2 separate regions of the Homo sapiens genome follow, and region 1 is linked to region 2. Evidence: fine-mapped expression QTL. A gene starts in region 2. The other region holds a variant in brackets. All regions are shown on one strand. Distances are between the middles of the regions.

The links.
Region 1: its variant is fine-mapped to the expression of RPS28 in kidney cortex (GTEx, PIP above 0.99).

What each region holds. Positions count from the first base shown.
Region 1 is chr19:8,081,807-8,093,120 of GRCh38, reverse strand. It overlaps FBN3 (fibrillin 3), which reads left to right. Exons shown (of 64, transcript NM_032447.5): 48 at 1,531-1,656; 49 at 2,870-3,022; 50 at 3,162-3,227; 51 at 3,451-3,576; 52 at 4,942-5,061; 53 at 5,174-5,296; 54 at 5,910-6,044; 55 at 6,796-6,921; 56 at 7,552-7,758; 57 at 9,749-9,874. Among named protein-coding and RNA genes, the nearest start is that of CCL25, 35 kb to the right of the region's middle. The variant T/C (reference allele first, on the strand shown) is at 6,357.
Region 2 is chr19:8,315,685-8,326,361 of GRCh38, reverse strand. It overlaps RPS28 (ribosomal protein S28), which reads right to left and starts at 4,866. Exons shown (of 4, transcript NM_001031.5): 1 at 4,793-4,866; 2 at 4,659-4,706; 3 at 4,271-4,409; 4 at 3,022-4,090. The coding sequence starts at 4,831. The coding sequence ends at 4,287. NDUFA7 (NADH:ubiquinone oxidoreductase subunit A7) reads left to right here and starts at 4,987. Exons shown (of 4, transcript NM_005001.5): 1 at 4,987-5,054; 2 at 5,456-5,505; 3 at 9,717-9,866. The coding sequence starts at 5,004. It overlaps KANK3 (KN motif and ankyrin repeat domains 3), which reads left to right. Exons shown (of 11, transcript NM_198471.3): 8 at 1,266-1,411; 9 at 1,532-1,732; 10 at 1,815-1,913; 11 at 3,440-3,778. The coding sequence ends at 3,523. RefSeq lists enhancers at 2,998-3,963, 3,964-4,931, 4,838-5,077, 4,932-5,899, 5,900-6,867 and 1 more.

The DNA.
Region 1 (11,314 bases), 230 kb after region 2:
AGCTTTGTGCAATTTTCTTTTTTTAAGGTTTAAATTTTTTTTTTCTATTTTTTCTTATTTTAATTTCAATAGTTATGGGGGAACAGGTGGTTTTTGGTTACATGGATAAGTTCTTCAGTGGTGATTTCTGAGATTTTGGTGCACCTGTCACCTAAGTAGTATACACTGTACCCAGTATGTAGTCTTTTATCCCTCACCCCCCTCCCATCCTTCCCTGGGGGTCCCCAAAGTCCTTTATATCATTATTATGCCTTTGCATCCTCATAGATTAGCTCCCACTTATAAGTGAGAACATACGATATTTGGTTTTCCATTCCTGAGTTACTTCACTTAGAATAACGGCCTCCAGCCCCATCCAAGTTGCTGCAAAGGACATTATTTTGTTCCTTTTTTTTTTTTTTTTTTTTTTTTTTGGTGGAGTCTCACTCTGTCACCCAGACTGGAGTGGCACAGTCTCAGCTCACTGCAATATCCACCTCCCGGGTTCAAGCGATTCTCCTGCCTCACCCTCCTGGTAGCTGGGATTACAGGTGCGCCCCGCCACAATGCCCAGCTAATTTCTGTATTTTCAGTAGAGACAGGGTTTCACCATGTTGGCCAAGCTGGTCTCCAGCTCCTGATCTCAAGTGATCCACCAGCCTTGGCCTCCCAAAGTGCTGGGATTACAGGTGTGAGCCACTGTGCCTATTTCGTTCCATTTTGTGGCTGAGTAGTATTCCATGGTGTATTATATACCACATTTTCTTTATCTACTCGTTGGCTGATGGGCATTTATAAATATGATGGCTCCAGATTTTTGCGATTGTGAATTGTGTTGCTATAAACATGCATGTGCGTGTGTCTTTTTCATATAATGACTTACTTTCCTTTGGGTAGATACCCAGTAGTAGGATTGCTGGATTGAATGGTAGTTCTACTTTTAGTTTTTTGGTTTTTTTTTTTTGAGACAGAGTCTCGCTCTGTCACCCAGGCTCAAGTGCAGTGGTATGAGCTCAGCTCACTGCAAGCTCTGCCTCCCGGGTTCATGCCATTCTCCTACCTCAGCCTCCAGAATAGCTGGGACTACAGGCGCCCACCACCACACCCGGCTAATTTTTTTGTATTGTTAGTAGATGGTTTCACCATGTTAGCCAGGATAGTCTCAATCTCCTGACCTGGTGATCCACCCGCCTCCACCTCCCAAAGTGCTGGGATTACAGGCATGAGCCACCGCGCCCGGCCTTACTTTTAGTTCTTTAAGGAATCGCCACACTGTTTTCCATAGAGGTTGTACTATGTGCAGTTTCAGTCTCCAATCATGAACTATTCCTGACCATGACCTTTACTCTGGAGATGCCTTCCGGGAAGGACCTACGTGCACACACAATGCCCACCTCGTGCTGAAGCTCATACTGAGCTCTCAGGACCCCAGCCCCACTGCAGCCCCTGGCTGGACCTGCACTCCATCTGTCCCTTCTCACAGCTGAGTCCTCTCCCCACTGATGGAGGTCCTACTTGCCCCCCACCCAGCTCATGTCCCTGCCCTTCCAGATATCGACGAGTGCTCAGAGGAGCCCAACCTCTGCCTCTTTGGCACCTGTACCAACAGCCCTGGGAGCTTCCAGTGCCTCTGCCCACCTGGCTTTGTCCTCTCTGACAATGGGCACCGTTGCTTTGGTAAGTCCACACAGGGCTTAGGGAAGAGGGTGGGAAGTGGGGCGGGGAAGGGTCAGATTGCCCAGAAAAGAGGGCTGTGGTTTCTTGTGTGACCCTTTGGGAGCTCTGACCAGGCAGAGGTGTCTGTTTGCATTAGCAGAGTTATCCTAGTGCCAGCAACCTCTTGGCTATAGAGGTCATGTCTATGGAGGGCTAACCTGGTCCATTCTGAGCTAGGTGTGTGCTTATTTAGGTTTTCCTTGTATTGGTCACATGACTGTAGGCTGTCAATGGGCTGGTTTTGTCCAGTTTGAGCTAGCCTAGACTACTCTGGGCTGGCTCCGTTTCAGCTGGGCTAGCCTTGTCTACTGTGGGCTAACCTCACCCAGCTTGAGCCAGCCTGTTCTCTCACAGGTCAGGGGCAATAAGGGTGAGAGCAGAGCATGCAGTTCACCTCAGCGAATATTTGCTGTTCTGGGAGGCTGGGACCCCAGCCTGCTGGTGAGGACTTGATAGGTGTCCAGAGCCAAGGATTGGGGGTTTGGATCCTCGGGCTTTCTGGAATCAGTCGTTTTGCCTCTCCAGGAAGGGGTTTTTGATCCAAGAGTAACCACCAAGTTTGATCTTTCTTCCTGGCATGAGAACACCCCAAAGCAATGAAGTGGGGTGGGATTCCAGCTGTCCCCTCAAAACCCCAGGGCAGGCCAGGGGCGGTGGCTCATGACTGTAATACCAGCACTTTGGGAGGCTGAGGCAGGCTGATCACCTGAGGTCAGGAGTTTGAGACCAGCCTAGCCAATGTGGTGAAACCCCGTCTCTACTAAAAATACAAAAATTAGCCGGGTGTGGTGGCACATGCCTGTAATCCCAGCTACTTGGGAGGCTGAGGCAGGAGAATCACTCGAACCTGGGAGGTAGAGGTTGCAGTGAGCTGAGATCGTGCCACTGCACTCCAGCCTGGTCAACAGAGGAAGACTCCATCTGAAAAAAAAAAAAAACCACCACCACCACCAACAACAACAACTAAAAACCCAGGGCAGATCCTCATTGGCCCAGAGTAGGTCACATGTCCATACTCAAACCAATCACCATGACCAGGGGCATGGCATGTTCTGATTGGCCACTGGCAGGATCAGCACAACCCATTCACCAGGACTGGGGTGCGGGAGGTCACAGGGGCAGGTGGGCACTGCCAGCGGCTTTCAATCAGGGTAATGGAGCCCCCACCCCACAGACACACGGCAGAGTTTCTGCTTCACCCGTTTTGAGGCTGGGAAGTGCTCGGTGCCCAAAGCTTTCAACACCACCAAGACCCGCTGCTGCTGCAGTAAGAGGCCTGGGGAGGGCTGGGGAGACCCCTGCGAACTGTGTCCCCAGGAGGGCAGCGGTGAGTGCCCACCCCTGTCCAGGCTCCCTGGATGATGTGCCCTCACCTTCCTCTCTCATTCTTCTCTCATCCTTCCCTGCACACACCTGGGGGCTGCACCTAGGCCCTGACTCTGACTCCCCTCCCCCTCTCCGTCCAGCTGCCTTTCAGGAGCTCTGCCCCTTTGGCCACGGGGCAGTCCCAGGCCCGGATGACTCCCGAGAAGGTGAGCCCCTCACCCACATGCTAAGAGCCCCTTCTGGGCCACCCAGATCCATCTCCGCACTGCCTGGGTCTCTGAGTTTCAGGCTCCCCCTGAGAGCCTGGGTGGCCCTGGACCCTGCCAGCCTGGGGCTTGGGCTTTTGTCCCCTTGGGGCCTTGAGTGTGGCCAGGGCTCTGGCGATTGTGTGGTGACAGAAGCCATGTCTGCAACGCCTGCCATCCGCAGACGTGAATGAGTGTGCAGAGAACCCTGGCGTCTGCACTAACGGCGTCTGTGTCAACACCGATGGATCCTTCCGCTGTGAGTGTCCCTTTGGCTACAGCCTGGACTTCACTGGCATCAACTGTGTGGGTGAGTGGCCAGCCCTTCCCCAGCTCTGTCCCAGGCCCCTCCCAGGACAGGAAGGAGCAGAGCAGGGCAGGGAAGACACCCCCAGGCAGTGGGTGAGATCCTGTCCTTAACCACTGCCTCTCTCCCCCATTCACTTTTTCTCCCTCTGTGCTTCATTCACTCATTAATTCACTTGCTCACTCATTTTCTTGCTCATTCATTCACTCACTCACTTATTCATTTACTCATTCACTTATTCATTTACTGACTCATTCATTCACTTGCTCACTCACTTACTCATTTTCTCATTCATTCACTCATTCACTCACTCATTTACTCCCTTATTCATTCACTTACCAATTCACTCACTCATTCACTCCTTGGCTCACTCATTCCTTCACTTGTTCATTCATTCACTTATTAATTCACTAACTCCCTCATTCATTCACACGTCATTCATTCACTTGCTCATTCACTCACTTATTCATTTACTCACTTATTCATTTACTCACTTATTCACTCATTCACTCATTTGCCCCCTCACTCATTCACTTGCTAATTCTCTCACTCATTCACTCCTTTGCTCACTCATTCCTTCGCTTGTTCATTCATTCACTTGTTCATTCAATCACTCCCTCATTCATTCACACCTCATTTATTCACTGGCTCATTCATTCACTCACTCATTCATTTACTCATTCACTCATTCACTCGTTTGCTCCCTCATTCATTCACTTGCTTGTTTGTTCACTCATTCATTTGTTCCTTCATTTGTCTCCTTGCTCATTCACCCATTCAATCACTCATTTATTCATTTACTCACTCATTCCTTTGCTCATTCATTCATGCTTTCACTCACTTATTCAGTCACTCATTCGTTTCCTCATTTGCCCTCTTGTTCATTCATTCACTTCCTTGCTGATTTCTCCATTCACTCACTCAGTAATTCACCCACTCATTCACCCCTTTACTCACTCATTCCCTTATTCATTTAACCATTCATTCACTTACTCATTTATATGTTTTTTAGAGATGAAGTCTTGCTATGTTACCCAGGCTCTTTTGGAACTCCTGGGCTCAAATGACCCTCCTGCCTCAGTTTCAGTTACTGGTTTAATCACTCCTTCATTCACTGGCTCATTCATTCACTTCTTGCTCATTCACTCACTCCCTTGCTCACTCATGCATTCCTTTACCTGCCCACTTGCTCACACATTCACTCATTCATTCACTAAACACATACCGCTTGCCTGCCCCATAGCCAGACTAGAGGTGCATTCGATCTGGCCCCCTCCGATCTGTGGTGGTCAACAGGCAGGCAGATGGGATGCTACTGAGGATGGGGGACCCTCTGCAGGTGCTGACCACCCCCTTACTCCCACCCAGACACAGACGAGTGCTCTGTCGGCCACCCCTGTGGGCAAGGGACATGCACCAATGTCATCGGAGGCTTCGAATGTGCCTGTGCTGACGGCTTTGAGCCTGGCCTCATGATGACCTGCGAGGGTACAACTCTGCTTGCCCAGGACCTGGGCCGTGTGACGGAGATGCCTGGGGGAGGGAGTGGAGGTCCCGCCCTCAGTCCCTACCCAGCTGGCACCTCCACTGGCCTCCCCAGACATCGACGAATGCTCCCTGAACCCGCTGCTCTGTGCCTTCCGCTGCCACAATACCGAGGGCTCCTACCTGTGCACCTGTCCAGCCGGCTACACCCTGCGGGAGGATGGGGCCATGTGTCGAGGTAGGCCTGACTAATATGGTAAAACCCTGTCTCTACTAAAAATACAAAATTAGCTGGGCATGGTGGCACACGCCTGTAATCCCAGCTACTTGGGAGGCTGAGAGACAGGAGAATCGCTTGAACCTGGGAGGCGGAGGTTGCAGTGAGCCGAGATCATGCCACTGCACTCCAGCCTGGGCGACAAGAGCAAAACTCCGCCTCAAAAAAAAAAAAAAAAAAAAAAAAATCCTGCAATGCACACAGAACAGCCGCCCACCGCAAAGAACTTTCCTATCCCAAATGTTCATAGTGTCAAGCGTGGGAGACCCTGGTCTGGGACTCAGTGTCTCTGGGGCTGTTTCAGGGTCAGTGTTCCAGGGGCCATGAGCAGACTCACAGACCCTGACATGGGCAGGGGATGCAAGCTTTGGGGGACAATTCCTGATTCCCTCAGCTTCTTGGAGGCTGGGGCTGGGCAGGAGCTGGGGGCTCCCTTCCTAAGAGGGATAGACATTTGACAGGGTCTGCAGGGAACTCACTCAGGTCCCACAGGGCTGACGCAGGGTGGAATCCAGGTCCCCACAGCCATAGGGTGCCTGGCCTTGACTGACCATCTGTCTCTGGTCATCCGAAGATGTGGACGAGTGTGCAGATGGTCAGCAGGACTGCCACGCCCGGGGCATGGAGTGCAAGAACCTCATCGGTACCTTCGCGTGCGTCTGTCCCCCAGGCATGCGGCCCCTGCCTGGCTCTGGGGAGGGCTGCACAGGTATGGGGCACTGGAGCTTCATGGGTGCAGGAAACTCCTTGTGGAAGGGAGAGGTCAAAGCAAGAGGGTTGGACCGGGCACGGTGACTCATACCTGTCATCCCAGCACTTTGGGAGGCTGAGGCGAGAGGATCGCTTGAGCCCAGGAATTTGAGGCTTCAATGAATGGGAGGGACAGGCAGTGGGGGGGGACAGGCAGTGGGAGGGACAGGTAGTGGAGGTGACAGGCAGTGGGAGGACAGTGCCGCTGCACTCCAGCCTGGACGACAGAGTGAGACCCCATCTCCAAAAACAATAAAAATGAAAATAAGGC[T/C]GGGCACGGTGCCTCACGCCTGTAATCCTAGCACTTTGGGAGACCAAGGCGGTTGGATCATCTGAGGTTAGGAGTTTGAGAACAGGGTGGACAACACGGCGAAACCCCGTCTCTACTAAAAATACAAAAAAAAAAAAAAAAATAGCTGGGCGTGGCGGCGGGCACCTGTAATCCCAGCTACTTGGGAAGCTGAGGCAGAAGAATTTCTTGAACCCGGGAGGTGGACGTTGTAGTGACCCAAGATCAGGCAATTGCACTCCAGCCTGGGAAACGGAGCGAGACTCTGTCTCAAAAAATAATAATAATAATAATAATAAAAATAAATAAAATAAAAATAAGCAAGAGGGCCTGGGCAGATCCAAAGGGGCCCTTTGGGGCTGTGGGAGAGGCTGGCTGCCTGTGGCCTCCCCGCCCACCTGCCTCACCCCTCCCATCTCAGATGACAATGAATGCCACGCTCAGCCTGACCTCTGTGTCAACGGCCGCTGTGTCAACACCGCGGGCAGCTTCCGGTGCGACTGTGATGAGGGATTCCAGCCCAGCCCCACCCTTACCGAGTGCCACGGTGAGTGTGGCTGGACACGCACAGTGGTTGCAACCACCTACCATGTGGCACCCACTGCCTGTCCCCCCCCACTGCCTGTTCCCCCCACTGCCTGCCCCCTTCACTCCCTGTCCCTCCCACTGCCTGTTCCCTCCACTGCCTGTTCCCCCCACTGCCTGTCCCTCCCACTGCCTGTCCCTCCCACTGCCTGTCCCCCCACTGCCTGTCCCTCCCACTGCCTGTCCCTCCCACTGTCTGGGAGCCCTCCAAGGCAGGGACGGGGCCTGCGGCACTGACGGGCAACCCAGGGGGTTGCTGAGCTAATCCGGACACACATGTCCAGTGCTCCCCTGCTGCCCCTCTTCCCTCTGTCCCTTCTGTTAAATACTGGAAGAGCGGGACGCTCCCTCCATGCCTCCTCCAACTTACTGGCGCCACACCCCGGAACCAACCTTCCCCAGATCTCCCACTTCTGGGGAGCTAACCCCAGCCGGTGACCCACTAGGGCCATCTGTCCTGTGTATCCAACTCCCTCCTGGACACCCCTGTCCCCAACACCCCCAAAATACAGCTTGCCCCAAAGCAAGCTCAGTCTTTGCCCCCAAACCAGCCTCCTGGAGTGACCGTTGTCTTTCCCATTGTTCTCTGCAGACATCCGGCAGGGGCCCTGCTTTGCCGAGGTGCTGCAGACCATGTGCCGGTCTCTGTCCAGCAGCAGTGAGGCTGTCACCAGGGCCGAGTGCTGCTGTGGGGGTGGCCGGGGCTGGGGGCCCCGCTGCGAGCTCTGTCCCCTGCCCGGCACCTCTGCCTACAGGAAGCTGTGCCCCCATGGCTCAGGCTACACTGCTGAGGGCCGAGGTGGGTGCCCATGCCCTCAGGACCCCCAGGGAGGCAAGAAACGGGGGAGTTTGCTCAGGGTCATGTGTCTGTACTGCAGCAGGTGCTGGAATGTGTGAGCCACACTGTGTGTGTGTGTGTGTGTGTGTGTGTGTGTGTGTGTCTTTGTGCTAGCAGATATGAGAACCAGTACGTGTGCACCATATGCATGGAAGAACTCGGGGGGTTGAGGGAGCAGTTGTGTGAGCCAATGTGTGTGTATGTGTTCTGAGACAGAGTCTCACTTTGACACCCAGGCTGGAGTGCAGTGGTGCAATCTCAGCTCACTGCAACCTCTGCCTCCCAGTAGCATACCTGTCATCCCAGCACTTTGGGAGGCTGAAGAAGGAGGATTGCTTAAGCCCAGGAATTTGAGGCTGCAATGAGCTAAGATAGTGCCACTGCACTCCAGCCTGGGTGATAGAGCAAGACCTCGTCTCCAAAAGCAATAAAAATAGGCCGGGCACAGTGGCTCACACTTGTAATCCCAGCACTTTGGGAGGCTGAGGCGGCCGGATCACCTGAGGTCAGGAGTTTGAGACCACCCTGGTCAACATGGTGAAACCTCATCTCTACTAAAAATACAAAAAATTAGCTGGATTTGGTGGCGTGTGTCTGTAATCCCAGTTACTCGGGAGGCTGAGGCAGGAGAATCCCTTGAATCCGGGAGGCAGAGCTTGCAGTGAGACGAGATCACGCCATTGCACTCCAGCCTGGGCAACAGAGAGAAACTCTGTCCCAAAAAAATAAATAAATAAAAATAAAAAGCAAGAGGGCCTTAACAGACCCAAAGGATCTCTTTGGGGCCGTGGGAGAGGCTGGCTCTCCCATGGCCAGTAAAGATGAGGTTTTGCCATGCTGGCCAGGCTGGTCTCGAACTCCTGGCCTCAAGTGATCCGCCCACCTCAGCCTCCCAAAATGCTGGGATTACAGGCATGAGCCACCGCGCCCGGCCCAGTGTGTGTTCTTTGTGAGTGAGAGCTCGTTCCGGACTGCGTGGGAGCTGGTGTGTGTCTGTGTGTGTCAGCTGGGTGAGAAGTATACACCATGTTCATCTGTGAAGTAGAAGGCAGTGAGAGGGAGCCAGCGGCCTGTGTGTTGTGGACTTGGGTGAGTGTACAAGGGCAGGTATGTGAGTGTCTGCGTGTGAGCGAGCATAAGGACATCAGTGCGTCTCACTGAGTGTGTCACTGATAGTGAGATGGGTTATCCATGTGACCAGCAGTGGCATCAACAGGACTGGGGAGGGCCGCGGTGGCTCACGCCTGTAATCCCAGCACTTTGGGAGGCTGAGGCGGGCAGATCACGAGGTCAGGAGATTGAGACCATCCTGGCTGACACGGTGAAACCCTGTCTCTATTAAAAATACAAAAAATTAGCCGGGCGTGGTGGCAGGTGCCTGTAGTCCCAGCTACTTGGGAGGCTGAGGCAGGAGAATGGCGTGAACCCGGGAGGCGGAGCTTGCAGTGAGCAGAGATCGTGTCACTGCACTCCAGCCTGGGCGACAGAGCGAGACTCTGTCTCAAAAAAAAAAAAAAAGAAAAAATAGTAGGACTGGGGAGGAAATGGCTTTTTGGGGGTGTGGCTGGGGGGAGACTCGGGAGTCCCTGAGTGTTGGCGTGTGTTCCCGTGTTTCTGCAGGAGCATCTAGGTGTGTGGCTAGTGTATCATGTTGCATGCACTGTGTGTCTCTGTTCTGCATGTTGGTGCACTGAGGAGGTGTCGCTGTTGAGGCTGGGGAGGGGTGGGTGTGAGTCCCCTTCCCTGGAAGCTTCATGGGCGTGTCCTGCGGGCTCAGGTGTCATCCGCAGCCTGAGGATGGGGTCCACGTGGGCTGGGGTGCAGTGGCCGGTGTGGAAGGGAGGCTGGACTTTCCTCCGAGGAGACGGCTGCTGGGCAGAGAGAAGGAGACATTCCTCGGTGGAGGCGCGAAGCAGCCAGCCAGCCCCATTTGCACCCTACTTTTTCCCAGATGTAGATGAATGCCGTATGCTTGCTCACCTGTGTGCTCATGGGGAGTGCATCAACAGCCTTGGCTCCTTCCGCTGCCACTGTCAGGCCGGGTACACACCGGATGCTACTGCTACTACCTGCCTGGGTGAGCCCAGCCCTCTGCACCTGCACCCTTGGCCCAGCCTGGCCACCTTCTGTGCAGCCCCTGAACTCAACTTCCCTGAGACTTTCCACTTTGCAATGTTAGGCTTTCATTTACAAAGTGGTGCCCAAACCATACAGACAACTGAGGGCCAGGTGTGATGGCTCGCTACTGTAATCCCAGTATTTTGGGAGGTCGAGGTGGGAGGATCACTTGAGACCAGGAGTTCCATAGCAACATAGCAAGACCCCATCGCTAAAAAAAATTAGCCAGGATGGTGGCCTGTAGTCCCACATGCGCCTGTAGCCCCAGCTACTTGGGAGGCTGCTTGAGCTCAGGAGTCTGAGGCTGCAGTGAGCTGATTGTGCCACTGCAGTCCAGCCTGGGTGACAGAGTGAGACCCTGTCTCTTAAAAAATGAAAAACAAAAGAAAAGAAAGAAAGAAAAAAAAAAACAGGCCAGGCATAGTAGCTCATGCTTGTAATCCCAGCACTTTGGGAGGCCAAGGTGGGCACATCATTTGAAGCCAGGATTTCAAGACCAGCCTGGCCAAGATGGTGAAACCCCATCTCTGCTAAAAATACGAAAATTAGCTGCACGTGCTGGTGCATGCCTATAATCCCAGCTACGCGGGAGGCTGAGGCAGGAGAATCGTTTGAACCCAGGAAGTGGAGGTTGTAGTGAGCTGAGATCATGCCACTGCAGTTTAGTCTGGACAACAGAGTGAGACTCTGTCAAGAAAGAAAGAGAGAAAGAAAGGGAAGGAAGGAAGGAAGGAAGGAAGGAAGGAAGGGAAGGGAAGGAAGGAAGAGAGAGAGAGAGAAAGAAACAAAGAGAAAGGGGAGAAAGAGAAAAAAGAGAAGAAAGAAGAGAAAGAAAGAAAAAAGAAAGAGAGAGAGACAAAAAGAAAGAGAAAGAAACAGAAAGAAAGAAAGAGAAAGGGAGAAAGAGAGAAAGGGAGAGGAAGGAAGGGAAGGAAGGCCAAGTGAGGTGGCTCACGCCTGTAATCCCAGCACACTTTGGGAGGCTGAGGCAGAAGGATCACTTGAGGCCAGGAGTTTGAGACCAGCCTGGCCAACATCATGAAACCGTCTCTACTAAAAAAAAGAAAAAAAGAAAAAAAATTAGCCAGGTGTTATGTGCCTGTAATCCCAGCTGCTTGGGAGGCTGAGGCAGGAGAATTGTTTGAACCTGGGAGGCGGAGGGTGCAGTGAGCTGAGATTGCGCCATCGCATTCCAGCCTGGGTGATGAAACGAGACTCCGTCTCAAGAAAGAAAGAGAGAAACAAGGAAGGGAGGGAGGGAGGGAGGGAGGATCCTTTCGTTCTCCCACCCCCACCCTGTTTGGGCCACTTTCCTGCTGTTATTTCTTCCTTTTATTTTGCACATCCTGATATTTTTCAGTTGTGTTTTGTAGCAAGCGTACATCTAAGTCAGCGGGAA
Region 2 (10,677 bases):
CAGCTCCCAGGTTCAAGTGATTATCCTGCCTCAGCCTCCTGAGTAGCTGAGATTACAGGTGCCTGCCACCACGCCTGGCTATTTTTTGTGTTTTTAGTAGAGATGGGGTTCACCACATTGGCCAGGCTGGTCTCGAACTCCTGACCTCAAGTGATCAACCACCTCGGCCTCTCAAAGTGCTGGGATTACAGACGTGAGCCAGTGTCCTGGCAACCAAATTCATTTTGAATTGTTGCTCTTGGCCAGGCGCGGTGGCTCACACCTGTAATCCCAGCACTTTGGGAAGCTGAGGCAAGCGAATCATGAGGTCGGAGTTCGAGACCAGCCTGACCAACATGGTGAAACCGTCTCTACTAAAAATACAAAAATTAGCTGGGCGTGGTGGTGCATGCCTGTAATCCCAGCTACTCAAGTGGCCAAGGCAGAAGAATCGCTTAAACCTGGGAGGCAGAGGTTGCAGTGAGCTGAGATCGTGCCACTGCACTCCAGCCTGGGCGACAGAATGAGACTCCATCTCTAAATAAATAAATAGTTGCTCCTGGCTGCTGTGTGGAACCTGGAGTGGATTCAGAGAGAAGGGTGGAGGCTGGCACTGTTCTTTAGGGGAGCAATGATGGTGGCTTGGCGGGTGGTGGCCATGAAAATAAACATATCCTTTTATTATTCAGTCAACAAATGTTTAACTGAGCATCTACTATGTGCCAAGTATTGTTCTAAGTACTGAGGGATACAGAAGCAAACAAAACCAAGTCCCTGCCTGATTTGAAACAGGGACTTGATTTGAAATAGCCACTGGGCCAGTGGCTCATGCCTCTAATTCCAGCACTTTGGGAGGCTACGGTGGGTGGATCACTTGAGGTCAGGAGTTCGAGACTAGCCTGGCCAACATGGTGAAACCCTGTCTCTACTAAATAATACAAAAATTAGCTGGGTGTGATGGCACATGCTGTAGTTCCAGCTACTCCGGAGGTGGAGATTGCAGTGAGCTGAGATCGCACCACTGCACTCCAGCCTGGGTGACAGAGCGAGACTATGTCTCAAAAAAAAAAAAAAAAAAAAAAAAAAGATGAAACAGGAAGGTCCTTCACTGAGCAGATGGTATTTGAGCAACACCTTAGTGAGGGAGGAACCAGGTAGCTATTGTGGGGAGAACGTTGAGACCACCCCATATGCAGGTGCTGTGCCCGAGGCTTGCAGGGAGGTGAGTGGATCAAGTCGGGCCGCGGTGTTGGCATCTCCGTGGACGGCCCCCTTTTCTCTCCCAGGGGCCTGCGAGGTCAACCGCCAGAACCGAGCCGGCTACTCGGCCCTCATGCTGGCTGCACTCACCTCTGTGAGGCAGGAAGAGGAGGACATGGCTGTGGTCCAGAGACTCTTCTGCATGGGTGATGTCAATGCCAAGGCCAGTCAGGTGCGTGGGCGCCCCCACTGTGGCTCTCAGCCAGGAGTCACTTCCACTTTGGGAGTCAACCTGTGACCTCCCTTCCCTGAGCCTACCCCAGCCTGTTCCCTCTTCCTCCCCACTCCCCAGACGGGGCAGACAGCCCTCATGCTGGCCATCAGCCATGGCCGACAGGACATGGTGGCAACCCTACTGGCGTGTGGGGCTGATGTGAATGCGCAGGATGCGGATGGGGCCACAGCGCTGATGTGTGCCAGTGAGTATGGGCGCCTGGACACCGTGCGGCTGCTGCTCACCCAGCCAGGCTGTGACCCTGCCATCCTGGACAATGTAAGACCCCACAATGGGGCTGGCATCTTGGGGGGTGCCCATGGCTTGGCTCAGGGATCTGACTGTCCCTAACGTTCCACAGGAGGGCACCAGTGCCCTGGCCATCGCCCTGGAGGCTGAGCAGGATGAGGTGGCCGCTCTGCTACATGCCCACCTGAGCTCGGGCCAGCCCGACACCCAGGTGAGCACAGCTCTGGAAGAAACAAACTTTCCCAGCTGCAAATTCAGTTTGCAGAGGATAGTAAATATGCCCTGAGCCTCCCTTTCTGCTCCCCAAAGGTGGCACCAGGGGTGCAGAACCAGTGTCTGGATTCTCCTATGTGGCTGCTTTTCTTTTTTGGGAGACAGGGTCTCACTCTGTAACCCGGGTTGGGGTGTAGTGGTGTGATCAGAGCTCACTGCAGCCACAAACTCCTGAGCTCAAGGGATCCTTCTGCCTCAGCATCCTCAAGTGCTGGGATTACAGGTGTGAAACCAGAGCGCCTGGCAGGGGCTGGGATTTGATGTGAAAGCAGCAAAACCCCAGTGAGGTTGACACTACCCCAGGTCATGAGACTGAGTCCTCAAGGGGGGAAGTAACCTAAGGTCACAGAGACCTAGCTAAGACCTTTCATGCATGCCCCTGGGCTCCTGTTACCTACTGCCAGGGAGGCTCTTATCAAAGGAAAAAGGAGCCCTTTGGCATCAGGCAGGGTGGGGAAGGGGGTCCAGAGCTTCAGAACTGGAGACTGGGTGAGTTTGCAGAACACATTAACCCCCAACACCACTATACTCTGATGGCCAAGTGCCAGGATGTTTTAGCACTTTCATAATCCAAGTTATCTAATCAGCCCACTCATCCTGTACAGGTTGACCCCAATTTACCATGGCTCCACTTACCATTTTTTATTTATTTTTGAGATGGAGTCTTCCTCTGTCACCGAGGCTAGAGTGCAGTGGGGCGACTGCAGCTCACTGCAACCTCCACCTCTGGGGTTCAAGCGATTCTTCTGCCTCAGCCTCTCAAGTAGTTGGGACTACAGGCACGTGCTACCATGCCCAGCTAATTTTTTTTTTTCATTTGAAGACAAGAGTCTCGTTCTGTCACCCAGGCTGGAGTGCAGCGGCACAATCTCAGTTCACTGCAACCTCCACCTCCCAGGTTCAAGAAATTCTCCTGCCTCAGCCTCCCAAGTAGCTGGGATTACAACAGCTGTGAGCCATCGCGCCTGGCACAACTTACAATTTTTTGACTTCATGATAGCATAAAAGCAATGTGTGCTTAGTAAAAACCACACTTCAGCAGAGTATTCAATAAATTACATAAGACATTCAATACTTTATTAAAACAGGCTTCGTGTTAGACGAGTTTCCCCAACTACAGGCTAAGGCGTTCTGAACAAGCTTAAGATGGACCATGCTAAGCTGTGATGTTTGGGAGATTAGGTGTATTAAACACATTTCAACTTGCAATACTTTCAACCTATGATGTACTCACCGGAATGTAACCCATTGTAAACTGAGGAACACCTGTACTCACCCCACTGGAAGGGATGTGGGAGGAAGGTCAAGCGCCTCTTCCAGGTCAGAAGGGGCAGAGGTTGGATACAAACCAGGCAGCCTGGGTCCATGGTAAAAGAACCTCCACTAAGTGAGGCTGGGGCTGAATCCCACGTTTCCTGCCTCAAGGAGATTGCAGCAGGCCCCCCTCTTTTCCCCTCTCTCCAGAGCGAGTCACCCCCTGGCTCCCAGACAGCCACACCTGGTGAAGGAGAATGCGGTGACAATGGAGAGAACCCCCAGGTTCAGTAAGCTGCCTCGTCTGGCTCACTACACCTAGCTGTGGGGAGATCTCCTCGTCAGTCACCTCAGCCTTTGGCGCACAGAAGGGTCCAGGGTCCCCTGCTCAGAGGCTAACACTGGCCGAAGAGAAAGGCAATTTCAGTTGGGGTGACTGTGGCAGGAAGGGGCTCACTCTGGCCCCACCAAGGTGAGGTGGGGACCAAGTGATAGAGCCCTGATCCACCCACTCTCTGAAACTTCTTTGCTAATAAAACATTCCTACTACGCTTGTGTTTTGTTTGGGGTAGAGGGTGCAATCGACAAACACGACCCCCCGCCTCAAAAAGGAAAAGCTTCGTTTGGCAAGACCGCACGGCCAGGATTTCCAGAGTGCGGAGGATCGGTGACCGCCTGGGAGCCACTCAAGAAACCTGGAGAAACCCTAGTCGTATAACCCAGACAAGAACCTGAGTTAACTTGAAACACAAACGCTTTATTTAAAGGAGCATCTCAGTTACGTGTGGCGGACAAAAAAAAGGAGCAGACTGTGACAGACCATTCCCATCGGCCAAGTGGTCGAACCCGACATCCAAGACCCTGTAAACAGACCCAAACATGAGATGTTGACAGGCCCCGCAGCAATTGGCAAACTCCCGCCTCCCTCTTGTCAGTCTCTGTATGTAGACTCTGCCTCCCAAACCCTCTCACCCTGGGCTTAACGAAGCCTCCCTACCACCAACCAAAGGTCTATCAAAGGGGTGTCCTCTTTGCACCCACCAGCGAGCAGCCAAGCTCAGCGCAACCTCCGGGCTTCTCGCTCTGACTCCAAAAGGGTGAGCACGTCGCCCTCGCGCACGGGGCCTTTTACATTGCGGATGATGGATCGGCTCGTGTCGTCCATGAATTCCACGCGCACCTACGGGTCCCCACCGGAGTGGAGGAAGAAGTAAGGGCGGGCCGCGGAAAGGCACCGCGGAGTGGGAAGCAGATATGAATTCAGAGAACGTGTCGGGGCCAGAATACAGATCGTTAAAGGGAACCATCAGAACCCCGTGATGAAATGAGAATCGGCTCCCGGATTCCGGCTGGCAGGGGTTAGGGCAGGGTAGAGGTCACATCAGGGTTTAGGTCGCCGGCAGTCGGCCAAATGCCCCCACCCGATTACCTGCGTGCACTGTCCCTGAGAACCGGTCCTGCCCAGGACCTTGGTGACCTGGAGGAAAGAAGCTGGGTTCAGACCCGGCCCGTTTGGCTCCTCTAATCCCTCCCCCTGCCCCCAAATTCGGGCCCCCACCTCACCCTGGCCAGCTTGATAGGCTGCACACGGCTGGTGTCCATGATGGCGGCGCGGCGGCGGTCTGGCGGAGAGGAGTCACGTGCTTCGGGGAGAGCCTTTATAGGACGTTCTAGCACCGCCCACTCCCGTCTCGCGATACCACGCCGCGTCTTTCCCAGCAGCCCCAGCGGTGGAGACGTCACCGGCTGCGCCCTTCAGTATCGCGGACGGAAGATGGCGTCCGCCACCCGTCTCATCCAGCGGCTGCGGAACTGGGCGTCCGGGGTGCGCGGGGCGGACAGGGCTGCACCATGGGGGGCTTCGGGCTCCGTGTGTCCGGGACCCGCTCCTGCTCCTCACCTCCCTCCTAAGCCGGGACCCTTCGCTCTCCCCGAATCTCCCTGGGAACCCCCAGCTAGTCACCCCTTCAGCCCGGGACCCTCTCCTGGCCTGGGAACCACTCAGGCCTGGGATTTCCCCAGTCCCCGACCTTCTTAGCCTTGGATCTGTGGGCCCGGACTCTGGCTTTGCTCTTCACCTGCAGGACCCACATCCGTTTCCCCGAGTGTTCATCCCCTGCCTTCCCTTAAAATGCGCATCCCCGGACCATCCCTGGTCCCTTGCCCTCTCCTTTCCTCTCTCCTGGGGTGCCTTGCAGGCCGACCTCTCCTCTCCTCTTCCCACAGCATGACCTGCAGGGGAAGCTGCAGCTACGCTACCAGGAGATCTCCAAGCGGTGAGCAGGCCCCGCTCGCTGCCCAGCCTCTGGCTCTGTCCTTTCTCCACCAAAAACGAAATCTGTGTTCCTTTAGACCCCTGAAACGGAGGGCTGACATCCTGCCACCAGTCCCCTGCCAGGCTGTGGAGGCAGAGGTTTGCCTTTAACCTTGCTGAACTCCGGAGGACAGCCCTCCTGAAACAGCGAGGCCGGGCGTGCATTCTGACTGGCAATCAGGCTAGATTTGCAGTGCTCAGCGTGGCCATGTTAGTCAGTGTTATCCCCAAGCTACAGATGAAAAAAGAGGTCCAGAGAGGCGAAATCATTTGCCTCAAGTCACTCAGAAGCTAAAAAGTGGCAGCGGGGACTTGAACCCAGAAGTGTCCTGATTTCAGACTCATTTATATTAAAATATTAGTTGATATTTACAAGCCCCCGTCATGTATGACCTCAGCCTTGGGTTTAACTTTGTGAACCAGGAAAGTTCTTATCCACATTCTTTCATGGACGCCACATTCTAGGGAGAAGCATAGTAGGGAAACAAACACAGCAGGTAGTATTGTTCTGGAATGCTTTGAAGACAAAACAAAATAAGTGGAAGCTGGAGGGTGGCTACGTAAAGTCAGATGATTGGGAAAGATCTTTCTTTGGAAATTGACAGTTGAGTCCCCTGAATGATGGGAAGGACCCATTCAAAGAATAATTATTGAAAAAACATTCTGACCGGGCGCGGTGGCTCACGCTTGTGATCCCAGCACTTGGGGAGGCTGAGGCAGGCGGATCACGAGGTCAGGAGTTTGAGACCAGCCTGGCCAACACAGTGAAACACAGTAAAACCCCCTCTCTACTAGAAATACAAAAATTAGCCGGGCGTGGTGGCGCGCGCGGGTAGTCCCAGCTACTCGGGAGGTTGAGGCAGGAGAATCGCTTGAACACAGGAGGTGGATATTGCAGTGAGCTGAGATCGCACCACTGCACTCCAGCCTGGGTGACAGAACAACACTCTGTCTCAAAAAAATAAAAAAGAAAAAACATTCTGAGCAGAGGGAACAGGAAGGGCTAAGAGTGTCAGGCTGGACAGAGCCTGAGTGGAAGGAGGCCAGTATGGATGGAACCCATTGAGGGAAAGGGATAATGGTATAATCTATGAAGTCAAAGGGTAGGCAGAGGTAAGGCAGTCATTGAGGATTATAATGAAAGGAAGAAAAATAGCATTAAAATAATGAAATTTATGTAAATGCCTATATGTTGTGACTAATTCCAAATATTAGAAGTATCAAACTTTGTTTTCAACTTTTTTTTTTTTTTTTTTTTGAGACGGAGTTTTGCTCTTATTGCCCAGGCTGGAGTGCAATGGCACAATCTCAGCTCACTGCAATCTCCATCTCCCGGGTTCAAGCGATTCTCCTGCCTCAGCCTCCCAAGTAGCTGGGATTACAGGCATGTGCCACCACGCCTGACTAATTTTTTGTATTTTTAGTAGAAACGGGGTTTCACCATGTTGGCCAGTCTGGTCTCGAACTCCTGACTTCATAATCCGCCTGCCTCGGCCTCCCAAAGTGCTGGGATTACAGGTGTGAGCCACTGCGCCCGGCTTGTTTTCAACTTTAACGTTAAGTTCTGGGGTACATTTGCAGTTTTGTTACAAAGGTAAACGTGCCATGGTAGTTTGCTGCAAAGATCAAAGATCAACCTATCACTTAGGTATTAAGCCCAGCATCCATTAGCTATTCTTCCTGATGCTCTCTCCCCCCCAACCCCCGACCCCCCTAGTTGGCTTTCTATCAGGGTAGTTGTGGGCCAGTTGAGGAAATGGCTTTGTGAAAGTTTTGACTTTTTTAGGATGACGGCACCCTCTAGTGATTCATCTGGATGTTTTATTGGTCTTTTTTTTTTTTTCTTTTTTGAGACAGAGTCTCACTCTGTCGCCAAGCTGGAGTGCAGTGGCGGATCTGAGATCACTGCAATCTCCGCCTCCCGGGTTCAAGTGATTCTCCTGCCTCAGCCTCCCGAGTAGCTGGGGCTACAGGCGTGCACCACCACACCCAGCTAATTTTTGTATTTTTAGTAGTGACGGGGTTTCACCATGTTTGCCAGGATGGTCTGATCTCTTGACCTCGTGATCTGCCCGCCTCGGCCTCCCAAAGTGCTGGGATTACAGGTGTGAGCCACCGCGCCTGGCCTTTTTTTTTTTTTTTTTTTTTTTTTTTTGTAAGACTGGGTTTCTGTGACCCAGGCTGGAGTGCAGTGGCACAATCATAGCTCACTGCAGCCTCGAACTTCCAGGCCTAAGTGATCCTCCTGGTCCAGCGTACCAAGTAGCTGGGATTACAGGCACATGTTACCGTGCCTGGCTAATTTTTAAATTTTTGTATAGAGACAAGGTCTTACCATGTTGCCCAAGCTGGTCTTAAACTCCTGGCCTCTGACTGGGCATGGTGGCTCATGCCTGTAATCCCAGCACTTTGGGAGGCCGAGGCAGGCGGATCACAAGGTCAGAAGTTTGAGACCAGCCTGGCCAACATAGTGAAAACCCATCTCTACTAAAAATACAAAAATTAGCCAGCATGGTGGCACACGCCTGTATTCCCAGCTACCTGGGAGGCTGATGCAGGAAAATCGCTTGAACCTGGGAGGCGGAGGTTGCAGTGAGCCGAGATCGCACCACAGCACTCTAGCCTGGGCGACAGAGCGAGACTCCATCTCAAAAAAAAACAAACAAAAAAAACACTCCTGGCCTCAAGCAATCCTTCCACCTTGGCCTCCCAAGGTATGAGCCACCACATCCAGCCTCCTTAAGCAAAGTCTTTCACATAATATATTGCTTTTAATATTAAACATTTTTTACTTTATGTTTCTTATTTTTAAAAAATACAGTGACTAACACTTGTTTTAAGAAAAAGGCCAGGAGTGGTGGCTCACGCCTGTAATCCCAGCACTTTGGGAGGCCAAGGTGAGAGGATAACTTAAGGCCAGGAATTCGACATCAACCTGGGCAACATAGCAAGACCCCCGACTCCACAAAAACAATAGAAAAATTGTTTTTAGCCAGATGTGGTAGTGTGCGCCTGTAGTTCCAGCTACTTGAGAGGCTGAGGCGGGAGCATTGCTTGAGCCCAGGAGGTTGAGGCTGCAGTGAGCTATGATCACACCTCAAGCGATCATATGATTGCATATATCATCCAGGCTGCAGTGCATATGATCACTGCCTCAGAAAAAAATTAAATTCCGGGAAACAGTTCCCAGACAAAAAAGTGACTTAGAAACATGGCTAAGTGGAAACAGATCAATTTACGGTTTTTGCTGTCTTCTCTCCTCCCTCTCTCTGGAAAGCCCGTCTTTTGTTTTGAGCTTTTTTTGTTTTTTGAGATGGAGTCTCGCTCTGTCGCCCAGGCTGGAGTGTAGTGGCGTGATCTCAGCTCACTGCAACCTCTGCCTCCCACCACCATGCTTGGCTAATTTTTGTATTTTAGTAGAGATGGGGTTTGCAGTGTTGGCCAGGCTGGTTTCGAACACCTGACCTCAAGTGATCCACCCACCTCGGCCTCCCAAAGTGCTGGGATTACAGGCATGAGCCACCCTGCCCATCCTTGTTTTGAGCATTTCTTTTAAGGCCTCAGGCTTCCAGGTAAATCCAGCCCAGGGTTTAGTTCAAGCCAAGACCGAGCTCTGTTCACCCCTCTCTGGGCTCCAGAGAGGAGTTGCCTGGCCACATGGTGGCAGGAAATGCAGAGATCTTGACAGGCTCCAAGGCTAAGGTGTTCTTGAATAATGGGCCTTGATCCTAGCAGGGTTCTCCAGAGACTTCCTGAGATAACAGGAAACGCAGGGCGTCCAGAGCCTGGCTTTAGGGGAAAAAGCCACTCAGAGTGGACAAAGTCAAGTGAGGCTGGCTGCCAAGCTCAGCCGTGGGGTGGGGGGCATGGGGACATGTCCCGGGCCTTGGGAGCCTCAGAAAGGGTCCTCTGTACCCTCCACATTTGGGACAGGTGGGGTCCCTGGGGGTGGCATCTTCACATCCAGAGCAGGGTCCACCATCTGCTTCTGGCCCCAGGACCCCTCCCCAGGCATATGTCCCTGCCAGTGTACCAAGGGACACCCCCAGCCTGTGGCTTATCCCAGTGGCTGGCTGTAGATCCCACATTTTGTGACTGAGGTGACAGGGGCCCACAGCGGGGCCATGACAGTGACTGTCTCTTTGCTTCAGTGCTCATCTTTTTTCCCCTCAGAACTCAGCCTCCTCCCAAGCTCCCTGTGGGTCCTAGCCACAAGCTCTCCAACAATTACTATTGCACTCGCGATGGCCGCCGGGAATCTGTGCCCCCTTCCATCATCATGTCGTCGCAGAAGGCGCTGGTGTCAGGCAAGCCAGCAGAGAGGTGAGGATCTCCAGCGCTGCTCACCACAGCCCCCATGCCCCCTCCTGCAACCCACTCTGTCTCCCAACTTGTGGAAAGGGTGCTTGTCAAGATCCTACTTAGTAAGCATCAGTTGCGCAGGAACTGTGCTGCTGGGAGCTTTTTGTCCGAGAGCTCATTTACTCGTTTTTAGAGACAGAGTCTTGCTCTGTTGCCCAGGATGAAGTGCAATGGCGCAATCATCACTCACTGCAGCCTTGAACGCCTAGGCTGAAGTGATCCTCCCCTCCTTCCTTGGCCTCCCCAGTAATTGGTGTTACAGATTAGTGCCACCATGCTGGGTCAATTTTTTTTTTTTTTTTTTTTTTGAGACGGAGTCTCACTCTGTCACCCAGGCTGGAGTGCAGTGGTGTGATCTCGGCTCACTGCAATCTCCACCTCCCGGGTTCAAGCGATTCTCTGCCTCAGCCTCTCAAGTAGCTGGGGTTACAAGTGCCCACCACTACACCCAGCTAATTTTTGTATTTTCAGTAGAGGCGGGGTTTCACCATCTTGGCCAGGCTGGTCTTGAACTGACCTTGTGATCCACCCGACTCGGCCTCCCAAAGTGCTAGGATTACAGGCGTGACCCACCGTGCCTGGCCTGTTTTGTTTTTGTTTTTGTTTTTGTTTTGAGATGGAGTCTCCCTGCGTCGCCCAGGCTGAAGGGGTGGGTTGCCCCTCCACACCTGTGGGTGTTCCTCGTTAGGTGGAATGAGAGACTTGGAAAAGAAAGAGACACAGACAAAGTATAGAGAAAGAAATCGGGTGACCAGGGGACCAGCGCTCAGCA